Regions from separate parts of the Homo sapiens genome. Here region 1 is linked to region 2. Evidence: fine-mapped expression QTL. Tissue or cell type: unexposed skin. Region 2 holds a variant in brackets; the other region holds the start of a gene. All regions are shown on one strand. Distances are between the middles of the regions.

The links. PIP is the estimated chance that this variant, and not a neighbour inherited with it, causes the effect.
Region 1: it holds the start of LRRC61, and the variant in region 2 is fine-mapped to the expression of LRRC61 in unexposed skin (GTEx, PIP 0.96).

The regions. Positions count from the first base shown.
Region 1 is chr7:150,321,141-150,327,244 of GRCh38, reverse strand. It overlaps LRRC61 (leucine rich repeat containing 61), which reads right to left and starts at 3,890. Exons shown (of 3, transcript NM_001142928.2): 1 at 3,685-3,890; 2 at 1,235-1,404. ACTR3C (actin related protein 3C) reads left to right here and starts at 3,700. Exons shown (of 8, transcript NM_001164458.2): 1 at 3,700-3,776. RefSeq lists enhancers at 3,061-3,130, 4,451-4,510, 4,561-4,670 and a silencer at 3,521-3,840.
Region 2 is chr7:150,366,846-150,374,167 of GRCh38, reverse strand. It overlaps REPIN1 (replication initiator 1), which reads right to left and starts at 5,346. Exons shown (of 3, transcript NM_001099695.2): 1 at 5,227-5,346; 2 at 4,300-4,497; 3 at 129-2,940. The coding sequence starts at 4,456. The coding sequence ends at 1,223. It overlaps REPIN1-AS1 (REPIN1 antisense RNA 1), which reads left to right and starts at 1,225. Exons shown (of 4, transcript NR_183429.1): 1 at 1,225-1,327; 2 at 3,013-3,090; 3 at 3,312-3,463. RefSeq lists enhancers at 501-650, 3,358-4,162, 4,163-4,968, 4,969-5,773, 5,813-5,872 and 1 more and silencers at 4,433-4,582, 5,093-5,562. The variant G/T (reference allele first, on the strand shown) is at 3,812.

The DNA of each region.
Region 1 (6,104 bases), 46 kb after region 2:
CACATGCTGACCCTTTTCACTTCCCTTCTCCTTTCCCTGGAAAGATATAATGAATACATAAAGACTTACTGGTACTGAAACTCAAAAAAAAAAAAAGATAAAAAAGATCTGACAATGAGTGATGCTAAACATTACTCACCAGGGTAATGTTTAAAAAGGGTCACCAGAGATGGCAGGGCTGCCTATAACAGGTGACGAGATGGCTAAGAAGGCTCAAGCAAGACTCTGGCCAGAAAGAGGAGCTCCTCCCAGCCAGAAGAACCTCAGAAGGGTTAAGTGGCAACAACTTCAAGTCCATCTCGCAAGAACTTTCAGCCACCAATAAATCCAAGAACTGAAGGCCTACTGCAAGGTGGCGCTTGTGTAGGGGCTAGGTAAAGCTGCAAAGGAAACACAGGCTGCTGTCCTGGGCCCACAACTGCTCTTGGATGTCACACTGGAGGGGACTTAACTCTCACTTCATGATTGAGGAAACTGCAACCCCAGAGTGTGAACATCCAGGCCTCCAGAGGCCATCTGCAGAACGGGGTCACCCTCCAAAGTATTTTTTTTTTTTTTTTTTCAGACTGGGTCTTGCTCTGTCACCCAGGCTGGAGTACAGTGGCATGATCTACCTTGTTGCAACCTCTGCCTCCTGGGCTCAAGTAATCCTCCCAAACTCAGCCTCCCAAGTAGCTGGGACTTCAGATGTGCACCACCACACCCAGCTAATTTTTGTGTTTTCTGTAGAGACGGGATTTCACCATGTTGCCCAAGCTGGTCTTGAACTCCTGGGATCAAGCAATCCCCCTGCCTCAGCCTCCCAAAGTATTGGGATTACAGGTGTGAGCCACTGCACCCAGCACACCCCAAAATCTTCATCTTAAGACCTACCCAGTTACCCCAGGACACCAATCTTGTTCTGTTTCCCAATTAGCTTTGTCTCATCATAAATGCTATACTCTGCAGATACTCTTGATTCACTCAATCATTTAACAGAAATTCATCAAATGTCTACTATGAGCCAGCACTCTGCCTTCAAGATATGAACAGAGGAGAGTAGCTGCCTGGCTGGCACTTGGGGCTCAGGATGAGACGACAACCTAGAAATGGGCTCATCATTAGACCAGGGGGAAAGTGGGGTATGGTGCTATGAGGCGGGGAGGGATCCCTGGGGGGCCCCCGGGCTGACCTACTGAGAAACAGGGTCTATTACACTGAAGAGCTTAGACCCGTCTTGCAAGGTGTTGTTTACCTTAGGCTATTGCTTCACAATCTTCAACCCTCGCAGGCCCGTCAGGTAGATCTGGGATTTTGTGTCATCACTGGTACAACAGTGACACCACCATGTTCTCTTCCACAGAAGTACTTTAGGATGACAGTGCAGCTGGCACTGTTGAGAGCCAACCTTGAATCCAAATGAATCTAAAACGTAAATTTTAAAAAGAAAGTCATTGATAAATTTCAGTACTTTATAACTAAGAAGTTACTTGTGGCCAGGTGTGGTGGCTCACGCCTGTAATCCTAGCACTTTGGGAAGCCAAGGTGGGTGGACTGCTTTGAACTCAGGGGGTTGAGACCAGCTTGGGCAAGATGGCGAAACCTTGTCTTTACAAAAAAAATACAAAAAAATCAGCCAGCTGTGATGGCCTGTGCCTGTGGTCCCAGCTTCTTGGCAGTCTGAGGCAGGAAGATGGCTTGAGCAGGGAAGTGGAGATTGCAGTGAGCCGTGATTGCACCACTGCATTCCAGCCTGAGCAACAGAGCCAGACCCTGTCTCAAAAAAAAGAAGTTACTTGTGACACACATCACCACAGCTGACAACACATTGGAGGCCTACAACCACAACAAGACAAGATTCCAAGGGCTTCTAAGCTGAAGCACGGCCTTTTGGGCTGCACGCCTGCCCATAGTCGATCATGTGGGCAGCAGTCAGGAAAGCGCCCTAGCCAGGCCACATGGGAAGCAGGCACATCCCTGGGAGGCAAAAGGGAAAGCGGGCCAGGCCGGGGTGACGGCAGGGCGGGGTGATGGCACAATGCATGGAGGAGACTGTGGGGAGAGCTGTTCAGGAGGTGGCCCATGCCTAAGCCTCAAGTGGAAGAGGAGGAATGATGGAGAGCGCCTCCACAGTGAGCCTCTTTCCTCATACAGGTCCATGTGGGCTATTTTGGGGCAAATCTTCAGGCAAGTTTCTAGAGAAACTGAAGGAAAACACCAGAGGGGGCTGCCCAGGTAATGCTGACAATACAGGGAGGTGAGAGGATGAGCAGATCTCAAAGGTGACTGAGAGGCAGAGGGGAGAGACAAGGAAAAACCAAAGTAAAGTGAAGTTAGGGAAACCAAGAAAAGACTTTCCAAAAGCAGTGGTCAGCGGGGTCAAAGGTCCCTTCAGTGGGCGGTACAGCAGGAAGTGGGGGAGAAGCAGGAACCGGGAATGCTGGAGGTGGGGATGGGAGGGAAAAGGCTTGGCTCTGTCCCTAAACAGAGAGAAGGTGACCTGGGAAGAGCGGGGAGGCTAACTACACAGGGAAGAGAAGCTTCCTGGAGAAAGGGATCCAGGGCACAGGCGGTGGAAGGGATTGGCCTCAAGAGACCAGGAAGAACTCTCATTTTTCCTGACAGAGAAAGTAGGATGGGTCTGGTAGCAGGCAAGTCCTGGAGTGCTGTGCAGAAGGGAAGTGAGGCAGCTTATGCCTGAGAGCCAGGCATGTTGATTGCTCACGGGGAGCCGTACATCTGTAAAGGCAGCCAGCGGCTGGCTGAGTGATCTGGCTTAGCCTGGGCTGGGAAGCACCTCCGCACACTGGCTCAAGAAATTAGACCTATTCTTCTCGCTGCTCTCACCAAGCCTTTTCCCAAGTGCGTGCCCAGAAGGAAAGCGGCCACTCTTCTACTTCTCTTGTGCCTGCAAGAGAAGTAGAACCCCACCCTGGGCATTCCATGATTATGCCAGGCCTTTCTCACTCCGCCCAGTCCCTCTCCAGCCCCTCTGCTCTCAACTCCAGCACTGCAGGGGGACAGAGTGTCTACTCCACCCCCACCAGGCAGGGGATTTTAAGCACCTGCTGGGCCCTCAAGTCTCATCTTCCTCCACAACATCTGTGAGAAGATTGAAAGGTGGTGAGAGAAAGGGATAGGAGGAGATGAACGTGTGAAAGGAAAAGAGGAGAGCAAGCCATTGCATGTTTTGGGGTTTTGTCCCACACGCAAATTTGACTACTTATAAAGTCTAAGCAAGATGTTTTAAATAATAATCATGCATCATTAGGTTTCATACTGTGCAAAAAAAATGACACAAAGTGAGATCTGTTACAAACGACACGGCAGCACTCTGCTACTTTCTGGAAGCTTAGGGCTAACAATGGAGTCAGAGCATGGCATCCAGAGCCCGTCTCTGAGCACGGCCGTGATCCTGCTCCAGCACACGCCTCGGTTTCCTCGTCTACATTACGGGAATAGTAACAGCACCCGCCTCATGAGATTGTTAGTGTTAAACGAGTTAATTAATACCACAGTATTTCAGGGCAGTTCTCGGCACAGAGGGAGAGATGGGTAAGGGCTGGCTGTTCCGGAAGATTCTGGCCTCTCCCAGTGTGTTTCGGCGCGAGGGCACCGCTGGCCCAGCAGGTGGCCCCCCGGGGCCGGCACGGGCCCCGACAGCCGCCCCCTTCCCTGAACCTCGGCGGCCCAGTCCCCGCTTACCTGAGGGGTGGAGCCGGCAGCCTGCGGAGCCACTGGCCAAGCTGGGAAGTCCGGCGCAACTCCGCACCGCAGAGCCGGCGCCTCCTCGGCAGGTAAGAGCCGCAGCCCCGCCGCCCGCCGCCTGGCGGCCCCTGACCCCTGGGCCGCGTGCCCACCACCCAACTTGTTGGCCAGCGTGCTTCTCCCAGCGCCGCAGGCCTGAGCTCCCGGAACGCGCCCAGGGGGCCTGGCCAAAGGCCGTAGTGGGCGCTCTGGATTCCGGGATGCGCCAGGGGTTACTTCCGGAAGCGCAGCCTGCGGGGGTCTTCGCGCGCACCCCCCGCCTCGCAGTTGGTACGTTCCTCCTACCTGCGGTGCCTGAGTGCGCAGGCGTGGGCAGCGAGGCGGTGCGGCCGGAAGCGAAGGGGCCGTGAGGTCAACAGTCGGTAATCGTTTATCGGTGCGGCCTTAGAGAAAGGACCTCCAAGCCCTTGTTCAATACATGTTGGGTGGTGGTCACAGGTGCCAGTCTCCGGACGGATGGCGGCCTAGATTTCCTCCCGGACTCGGTGGCACCCAAGGCCCCCTGCACGCCGGCGCTGTGCGTGCCAGGCTGACCGCCCGAGTGCGACCCGGACCTCGTCCGCACGTGCAGATGGAAGGGGCCACAAAGACGATAAGGATCCAGGTCTCCCGCGTGGAAGGCTCATCTATCGGTCGGTTCAGGAAATCCACCCAGGGTGTCTCCTGGTGTTATCAGAAAGGGGTCCCGATCCAGGCCCTAAGAGAGGGTTCTTGGATCTCATGCAAGAAAGAATTCAGGGCAAGCCCATAGAGTAAAGTGAAAACAAGTTTATTAAGAAAGCAAAGAAGTAAAAGGATGGCTACTCCATAGGCAGAGCAGCTCCAGGGCTACTGGTTACCCATTTTTTGGTTATTTCTTGATTATATGCTAAACAAGGGTTGAATTATTCATGAGTTTCAGAGAAAGGGGTGGGCAGTTCCCGGAACTGAGGCTTCCTCCCCTTTTTAGACCATATAGAGTATTTCATGATGGTGTCATGGCGTCTGTAAACTGTCATGGTGCTTGCTGGTGGGAGTGTCTTTTAGCATGCTAATGCATTATAATTAGTGCATAATGAGCAGTGAGGACCACCAGAGGTCCCTCCCATTGCCATATTGGTTTTGGTGGCGTTTAGCCAGCTTCTTTACTGCAACCTGTTTTATCAGCAAGGTCTGTATGACCTGTATCTTGTGCCAACCTTCTGTCTCATCCTGTGACTTAGAATGCCTAACCTCCTATGAATGCAGCCTCATTTTACCCAGCCCTTATTCAAGATGGAGTAATTCTGGCTTAAACACCTCTGACACTGGGGCAAATGCCTGCTGCCTGATGACTCCCACAAGTCCTTAACACCTAACCCAGAGAACATCTGGGCCTGCATCCACTCTGGTGCTCTGCCACTCCTGCAGCTACAAATTGTGTGGGAGCCGAAGAAGTCATGTTCCCTGGACGAGCACAAAATGCCTGTTTGTCCCATGTTGGTTCCACATGTGCACCAAAGTGAACAACTTTTGTCTCCCTGGCTACCTTGAACTTCTTTCCACCTCCTCAGTTGGACATATTCAAGGGGCTGGCCCGGGGGCAGGCTTCCCTAGTCTTCCCAGGGGCAACCTCAGCTTTTCCCATATCTTTCAGATGACCCTTCTCCTGCCCCAAGCAAATTAATGCCAAGCCAGTCTAGTTCTCCAGCTTGGGCTACAGCTGGGACCCCTGCCCAAGAATAGTGATTTTTATCTTTACACTTTATCCAAGTTTTTTATTTTTATTTTTATTTTTTTGAGATGGAGTCTCACTCTCTTGCCCAGGCTGGAGTGCAGTGGTGTGATCTCAGCTCACTGCAACCTCCACCTCCTGAGTTCAAGCGATTCTCCTGCCTCAGTCTCCCAAGTAGCTAAGACTACAGGCGTGAACCACCACACCTGGCTAATTTTTGTATTTTTAGTAGAGACGGGGTTTCGCCATATTGGCCAGGGTGGTCTCAAACTCCTGACTTCAAGTGATCTGCCCGCCTTGGCCTCCCAAAGTGCTGGGATTGCAGGTGTGTGCCACCCTGCCCAGCCATATGCAAGTTATTTTTAATTTCAGTTGATCTCCATGCCTCGGAGATGGAAGTATTAGTTTCTCCATTATATGGATCAGAAAATTGAGACTCACACAGCATGTTACAGTAGGAAATGGCACTAAAAGAAAAATTATTCAAACAATTGTTAAGGTGAGAGACTTTATTCAAGAACAGCTGCAATAGGGATTATGCAATAGGGGCAAAAAAATCAGGCTTAACATCAAATACAAGGACAGGTGGAGATTTATAGTTAAGCAACAGGGTGGAAGTCAGCAGATGGAAAATTACTAAGAGGACACATAAAGGTTAGGGAGA
Region 2 (7,322 bases):
CAAGCTGGGCATGTGGCCTGTGGCCAGAGCCCCACCCACAGCCCCCCGTCCTTCTAGGGAGGAGAGCATGCTGCTCCTCCTGACATGTCGCAGCTCCCCCAGAAAAAGTAACACTCCCCAGCCACCAGTTCTAAAACCAAATCTTTATTCTCTAGTTTGAAAAGGAGGGGTAAATGGTTGTTCTGTTTAGTTCCAGAGAACAGAACAAGGCCCAATAGGTAGAAATTATAGGAAAGCAGAATTCATTCATTATAAGGAAGGATTTCTAACAATTAGAATTTCTAACAATTAGAATCATCCAGGGCCTCAGGAGGTGCGGAAGTTCCTGTCACCTAAGTGCTCAAGCAGAGGCCAGGTGTCCATATGCTAGAAATGGAGAAAAGGAAACTCACCAGCAACTTCCCCTCAGCTGGCCCTCCATCACCAATGCGGCAGTCCTTGCCGTGACATGCTGAGCTCTGGAAGGAGCGAAGGAGGGGCTGCGGTGTTCAGACAAGAGCCTGGACACAGTGCTGCTGACAGCCAGGGGAGGCTCTCAGCGCTGGGAGGGGCGACAGATAAAGCGAGACAGACCAAGGAGTAAATGCCTTGGGATCTGCTCTTTGGGAAGGAAGAGGATGGAAGTATTAACAGCAGACGGGTCTCTCCAAGTCTGGGTGCCTACGCAGGGGGCAGGTGGGAGGGGAAGGGAGAGGTAAGAGTGGCTTCGCTTCACCTCTTGCTGCTGGCAAAGGCCCAAGTGCTGTCTAACAAGGCCAGCAGGTTCTCCAAGCTGTATCTAGCCCAGAGCATTCATTTACAGGACTCTACCACGCCTGCTTCCAAAAATGATCTTAAGTAACTTACAGTAAAAGACAGGGGCATTAAGGCGTTAATACCAGAGGATGGAGGGTCTTCCTTTCCACTGGTGGCTCCTCTAGCCAGAGGGCTCTAAGGGGCGGATGCTATTGCTGCTTTTCCAGGGCACAGGGCAGTCAGGACGGAGCCTTAGCACACACCAGCTGGAGGCCGGCGTCCCTGCGCTTGGAAGTGGGTTCCCTGGCCACCGGGGTTGACCTCTCTCGCTAGCAGGGCCCACCCAGCTCACTCCCCGCGTCTTCCATCCCCTCTAGGATTCCCATTGTCCCCTACTCCAGCACTAGGCAGGCACCCCCAGCCCACTGCGACTCCCACCACGAAGGACCCCAGCCCTCTCTCAGCCAACACGGCCCCGCCCACCGTCTCAGACATCGTGCTTCTTCTGGTGGGCCAGGAGTCTCTCCTCGTCGTCGAAGGTCTGGCCACAGATGGCACAGCAGAAGGCGCCGTCCCGGATGTGGCTCTTGCGGTGGGTGATGAGGTTGGACTTCTGGCTGAAGCTGCGGTCGCAGTCGGGACAGGCGTAGGGCCGCTCGCCCGTGTGGATGCGCCGGTGCGACACCAGGTTGGACTTCTGGCTGAAGGCTTTGCCGCAGTCGGGGCAGACGTAGGGCTTCTCGCCGGTGTGGATGCGCCGGTGCGCCGCCAGGTAGGGTTTGTGGCGGAAGGCCTTGCCGCAGTCGGGACACACGAAGGGCCGATCGGGGGCGTGGTCGCGCCGATGCGCCGCCAGATGGCTGCCCTGGGAGAAGCGGCGGCCGCACTCCTCGCAGGCGAAGGGCCGCTCGCCGGAGTGCACGCGCGAGTGCGCCACCAGGTGCGTCTTCTTGCCGAAGTTCTTCCCGCACTCGGCGCAGGTGAAGGGCCGCTCCCCGGTGTGCTGCCGCTGGTGGGCCCGCAGGAAGCGCTCCAGCCGGAAGCTCCTGCCGCAGTCGTCGCAGCTGTAGAGGGAGGGGGGGGCTTCGATCGGGTCCTGCGGGTGCTCTGGCGGGGCCCCTGGCGGCGGCTCCTGGGCCGGTTTCAGAGGTACCGCCGGGGTGGGCTCGGCCGCGGACTCCTGGGGGCCGGCTGGCAGCTGGGGGCTCCCCGGGCCGGGGGCGGCCTGGGCCGACCCCTCGGATCGCTTGTGAATCTTGCTGTGAGACAGCAGGTTGGGTTTGTGCCGGAAGCGGCGGCCGCACTCTTTGCACGGGTAGGGCTTCTCGCCGGTGTGGATGCGCCGGTGCGAAGTCAGATAGGGCTTATTGGTAAAGCGCTTCCCGCACTCGGGGCACTGGTGGGGCCGCTCGCCCGTGTGCACGCGGCGGTGAGCGATCAAGTTGGGCTTGTGCCGGAAGCGCTTGCCACAACAGGCACACTGGAAGGGGCGGTCGACGGCATCTCCACCGGGCCGGGGGGCGGTCACCGCGGGGCGGCCCCTGGGCCGGGGCCCCAGAGCCTTGGCTGCGGCCTCCTCCAGGGCCTCAGCTACGTGCACCCGCTTGTGGGCAACTAGCTGGTCCCACTGGGCAAAGCTCCGGCCACAGTTGCCGCATATGAAGGGCCGGGCCTCCGGGGCGGGAGGGTGGCACCGCCGCAGATGAGCTCGAAGCTGCTTTCGTCGCCAGAAGCGTCTCTCGCATTTGGGACAAGCGATGGGCCGCTTTGCAGCTGAATGGGCCCGCAGATGCAGAACCAGGGCCACCCAGCCTCGGAAGCTCTGCCCACAGAGGTGGCAGGCAAAGCCCAGGTCTGGGGTGGCAGCAGCATGGACCTGGCGGTGCAGTGCTAAGAAGGGGGCATGGCGAAAGCGACGGCCACACTCAGGGCAGGGCAAGGGCAGCCGGGCCTGGCACCGGCGGGTGTGAAGCCACAGAGCCACCCAGCCAGGGAAGTGCCTTCGACAGTGGGCACAGCGATGGGCCCTGCCTGGGGCTTGGGCACCAGACTGGGCCACTGACGTGCCTTGTTGCCTCAGCCCGCGGGACTCCTTCCCCAGGGTCTGGGGTGACTCCTGGGAGGGCCCAGAAAGGAGTCGGGGCTGGGCCAGGCCCATGGCCAGGGGGCCCCTGCAACGACGTTCCAGCATCGGTTCTTCCTCTGCTGAGGGTGGAAAAGCACAGTCACTCCAGAGACCAACTCACTCTGCCCCTGTTTCTCCCCTCCCAACCTCAGCCCCGGACAGGAGCTGCCATCTATGAACCCCTAGAGCCCCGGACATGGAGCTAGACTACTCTCCTGTTTCCTTGTGTGGTATGTATTATTTCAATCTTGGGTTTTTAGATAACATTTCAAGGATGTTTGTCTTATGTCTTTGTTGCCCTGGAAACTTCCAGAAGGGAGGGACTCTGATACTAGAATCCCCCTCATGGCAGCTACCCCAGTGTCAGACAGGGAGTAAATGCTCCAGTGCTGAATGCACAAACATTCCTGCCACAGGACTCACCAGAAAATGTGGCCACTGCTCCCTACAGTGCCTTATGCTGCCCTCTCCCTGTGTCTGCTGTTTCCTATGCCACATCCGAGCTGCACAGCAACTCTGAGAAGCTGGACAAACAGACACTGAGCTCCCTGTTTAACAGATGAAGCAACTGTGAGACATCAAAGATGACGAGACCTGCCCAAGGTGACACAGTAAGCCAACAGCAGAATCAAGACTAGGGAACAGGTCTTTAAACTCCCAGGCCAGTGTTCTTTCCTCTAAAGCGCCTGGGTTTGCAAAGATCTCAGAGAAAAAGGTGTCTATAGCTTTTCATTCCTAGCCCCACAGGGGAGGCACTTTCAGCATCACTAACTGCAGTCTCCGTAGGAGGCTGGAGGACAAGTGAGAACAGCCCTTCTCGGGGAACAGGAGCAGAGCCCTGGGTGCTACTCCCGGCAGTCTAACGCCAGACCACCGCCTGCCCAGACTGTGCCCCCATTCTGCCCGCCTGCCCTCTTCCACCCACACAAATTAGGACATTGCAGGAAGGAA[G/T]GCTCTCCCTGAATCCAAGGAACACCCACAGCCTGCTGCCCTCGGGGCCTGATCACCGGCTCTGCCTCCCTCGGGGTGCTGGAGATTACTGGGGCAATAGAAGGGGAGGGAAGATGAGACTGCAATCTCAGTCCCCTGCCCGGTCCTGCCCCAACCTCGCCAGGGGCTGCCCCATGTTCAGCTCTTCCACAGCTCAGGGGAGCCCAGATTCCTGCACAGGAGCCTCCTCCGCGGAAGGAGGAAGGAAGCAGTTAGGCTCCTAAGGGCCCTTCTGTGCCTGCTCACAAGCTCCAGACACATCCTTCTAAATTCCCTAGAGCGCACTCTCTCTTCTCAGGGAACACAAAGGTCACTCATTCCCAGTGTCAGACTGTGCACAGGGAAGACCCCAGGATATGAGAAAGGGCCATTTCCTTCCGCCGGGATGGGGACGCCCGTGCACCCCTGTTGTGGCGTGGTTTGGGAGCACAGCAAAGGCCAGACTCTACCCTGGAGACTGCAGAGCTGGGGATGAGGCTTTTTCCAGCTCCTCTTGGGGATGTTCCTGGGGATACTTCCGCGGCTGCAGCGCCTGCTTCGGCCCACACTCCGGTAGCCCCCAGGTGTTAGAGAAAACTGCAGTAATAAAGACACCCCTATCCCCATGGCAGAGCTCAGACCTCTGACTGCAGAGAGGCCAGCCTTACCTGTGGGGAGGGAAGAGAAAACAGAAGTGAGGCTCTGAGCTCCTCTAGGGCAGTCAGCTTTGTGTCCTCACCAGCCACAACCCCTCCCCCCACAAAGCCACACGCACCAGCCATAAGCCCCACATCCTGCCTGGCAGAGTGACCTTAATGGACATTGGATTAATAAATGAATGTGCCCCTTCAACAAGGAAGCACACTGCTGTCTTTCGGGGTCACTTTCTTCCCTGGTAAGGTCACGGAACGAATTCTCCATTCTGTGGCCAGAGTCTGGGCTTTCCCTGATGGCCAAAGGCCGGCCTATGGCAGGAACTCTGGAATCCCTGCTGGCTCCCCTTCCCCCAGCCTCCTCCCGACAGGAATTCCAGGCCTATTTCCCATGGGGCTGCGCAGGGCCAGCTGGTGTGACCACGACTCCGTCAGAATCCCCTTCCGCATCGCGGCTGGCCGCGGGTGGCAGAAGCCCCACACCGCCCTTTTGTACTGATGCGTGTCCTCCGTCCACGCTCCCGGGCACACGGGTCCCGTTCTTGCGAGTGAGCCATTTCGGGTCCCACGCACGGCGCAGCTCGCGGAGCCTGTGCGCAGGTGCGCTCCCCCACCCCCGCAGATCCAGCAGCGTCCCCCCCCGCGCACTCACACACGGTCGCGCACACTCACGGTCACGCGCCCCGCAGGTGGAGCGGCCCCCCGCGGGCCCGCGGTGGCCCCGCGCCCCTGCCCCGGCCGTACCTCTGCGGCGGGCTGTGCAGGGACGCGGCGCCCGTCCATGGAGCCCGAAGGCCGGCCTCCGCGGCCCACTCTCGCTCCCCGCCCCGCCGCGGCGACAGCGGCAGGTTCGAGTTCACAACTGCCAGGCCCGTCCCCAACCTCCCCCCGCCGGGTTCCCAGCGCCACGTGACTACAGGAGCTGCCGAGGGTCAGTCGCCGGCTCCCGCGGCCGCGGCCTGGGGGCGGGGAGGGACTGCCGGGGCCGGGGCGCGGGCGCCCCCGCCAAGAGCGGGCCGGGTCACTCAAGCCACTGCCGCGCCAGGGCGGCAGGCCTCGGAGGGTCGGACTCCGTTGCCATGGCGACCACCAGCCCGGGTTTCTCTGGGACTGGCCGGAGCTCAAGTTTCCCGACCCTTTGTCCCTGCGGAGCACGCGCGTCCCCGGGCGACCGCGTGGCTGGCCTATGGTCACCGGGGTGTTCGGCCTTAGCTGCCTTATGAGAGGCTGGGAGCCCGTCGGGAGACTTCAAAGAGGGCTCCGGCAAGCCCCCGGAGCGTCGTTGCCCGGGCCTTTCTCAGGCCGCGCACCCCGGCCGCAGTGCGGACGCTTGCGGCCGCGGCGGTCCCGGGACGGCGGTGGCGCACCTGGAAGGCCCTAGCTTCCGATTTGTTCCAAAGTGGAGCACAAAAAGGCCCGATCCTGCGAACTTTGAAAAGGCCTCTCTTCACTCTTTTCTAGAAATTAAGAAAGAGCAGAAGTTGCTGGGCTTCCTCTGGCTGCGGGCCAAGCGTGGGGCGACGGCCGAGGTGGCCGTTGGCGCACGTGGGGCATTTCGCTTGGAAAGGCTCAGCAGCCTGTGTGGCGTCTGCGGTGGCAGGTGCGAGCCTGTGCCCATGACTCACCCACTAGCAGGTGGCCCTGGCTTTCCAAACTAAACACTTCCTGGGGTTTCCAGGGTAGTACAATTTCATGTACTTTCATGCTTTTCAACACAGGCAATTTTTGAATTGTATAATTAGTCGTAAAAATACTTTTTAAATCTATTGCATAAATAGGAAATAGGGGAACATAAAACTCAGTTTTACCTCGTAGAGTCAATTACATTTAATATTTTGGTATGTTGCCTCCGGTGTTTTCTCTACGTATATCCATGGCATGTCTGGCATAATTGGAATAATGCCTTGCGAAGATGTATTCTGCCTTCTTCACTTAACACGATCTTGTGAATTTTCTTCCATTTTATTAGATATTCTTTTAAACATGATTATTTATGGCTGTATAAAAGGAATATATTTTTTAAATGTTTTCTAAATTATCTTCCAGGAAAACGTATTAGTTTTCCCTGAGAAATGCCCATTTTCCATATACTTGACAACACAGACTTTTTTAAAAAAAAAATTTAGTTTGAAATGGTTATTTCTCATCTTTTGTACTTGCATTTCTTAGAGTACTAGTTAGCTGGATTGTTTTTTCACATGGTTATTTTTTGCCAGTTTTATTTTCTCTTGTGAATTTGTTTATGTCCATTTGCCCACTTTTCTATTTGCCCATTTTAAAAGTTGGGGAGTTGGTTTATTGTTTGGGGGGCACTCATAAAGTACAGGTATTAAAGACTTGTCATGTTTGTTGCAGACGTGTTTCCTCGTACTTGTTAACTTTTTTTTTTTTTTTTTTTGAGACAGGGTTTCACTCTGTCACCAGAGCTGGAGTGCAGTAGCACTATCATGGCTCACTGAAGCCAGGACTTCCTGAGCTCAAGCAATCCTCCCACCTCGGCCTCTGAGTAGCTGGGACTACAGGATCACATCACCACATCCAGCTAATTATTTTATTTTAATGTTTTTCTTCTGTAGAGATGGGGTCTCACTGTGTTGCCCAGGCTGGTCTCAAACGATCCTCCCGCCCCAGCCTCCCAAAGTGTTGGGATTACAGATGTGAACCACTGCATCCGGCCTACCTTTTCAGTTGTTGATGTGAGAAAGTTTTGCTTTAGTCTATGTGCTGCTGAAGCGAGCATAAGAAAGTTTTGTTTTATTTTTATTTTATTATTTATTTATTTATTTATTTATTTATTTATTTATTTATTTTGAGATGGAGTCTGGCTTGTCTCCCAGGCT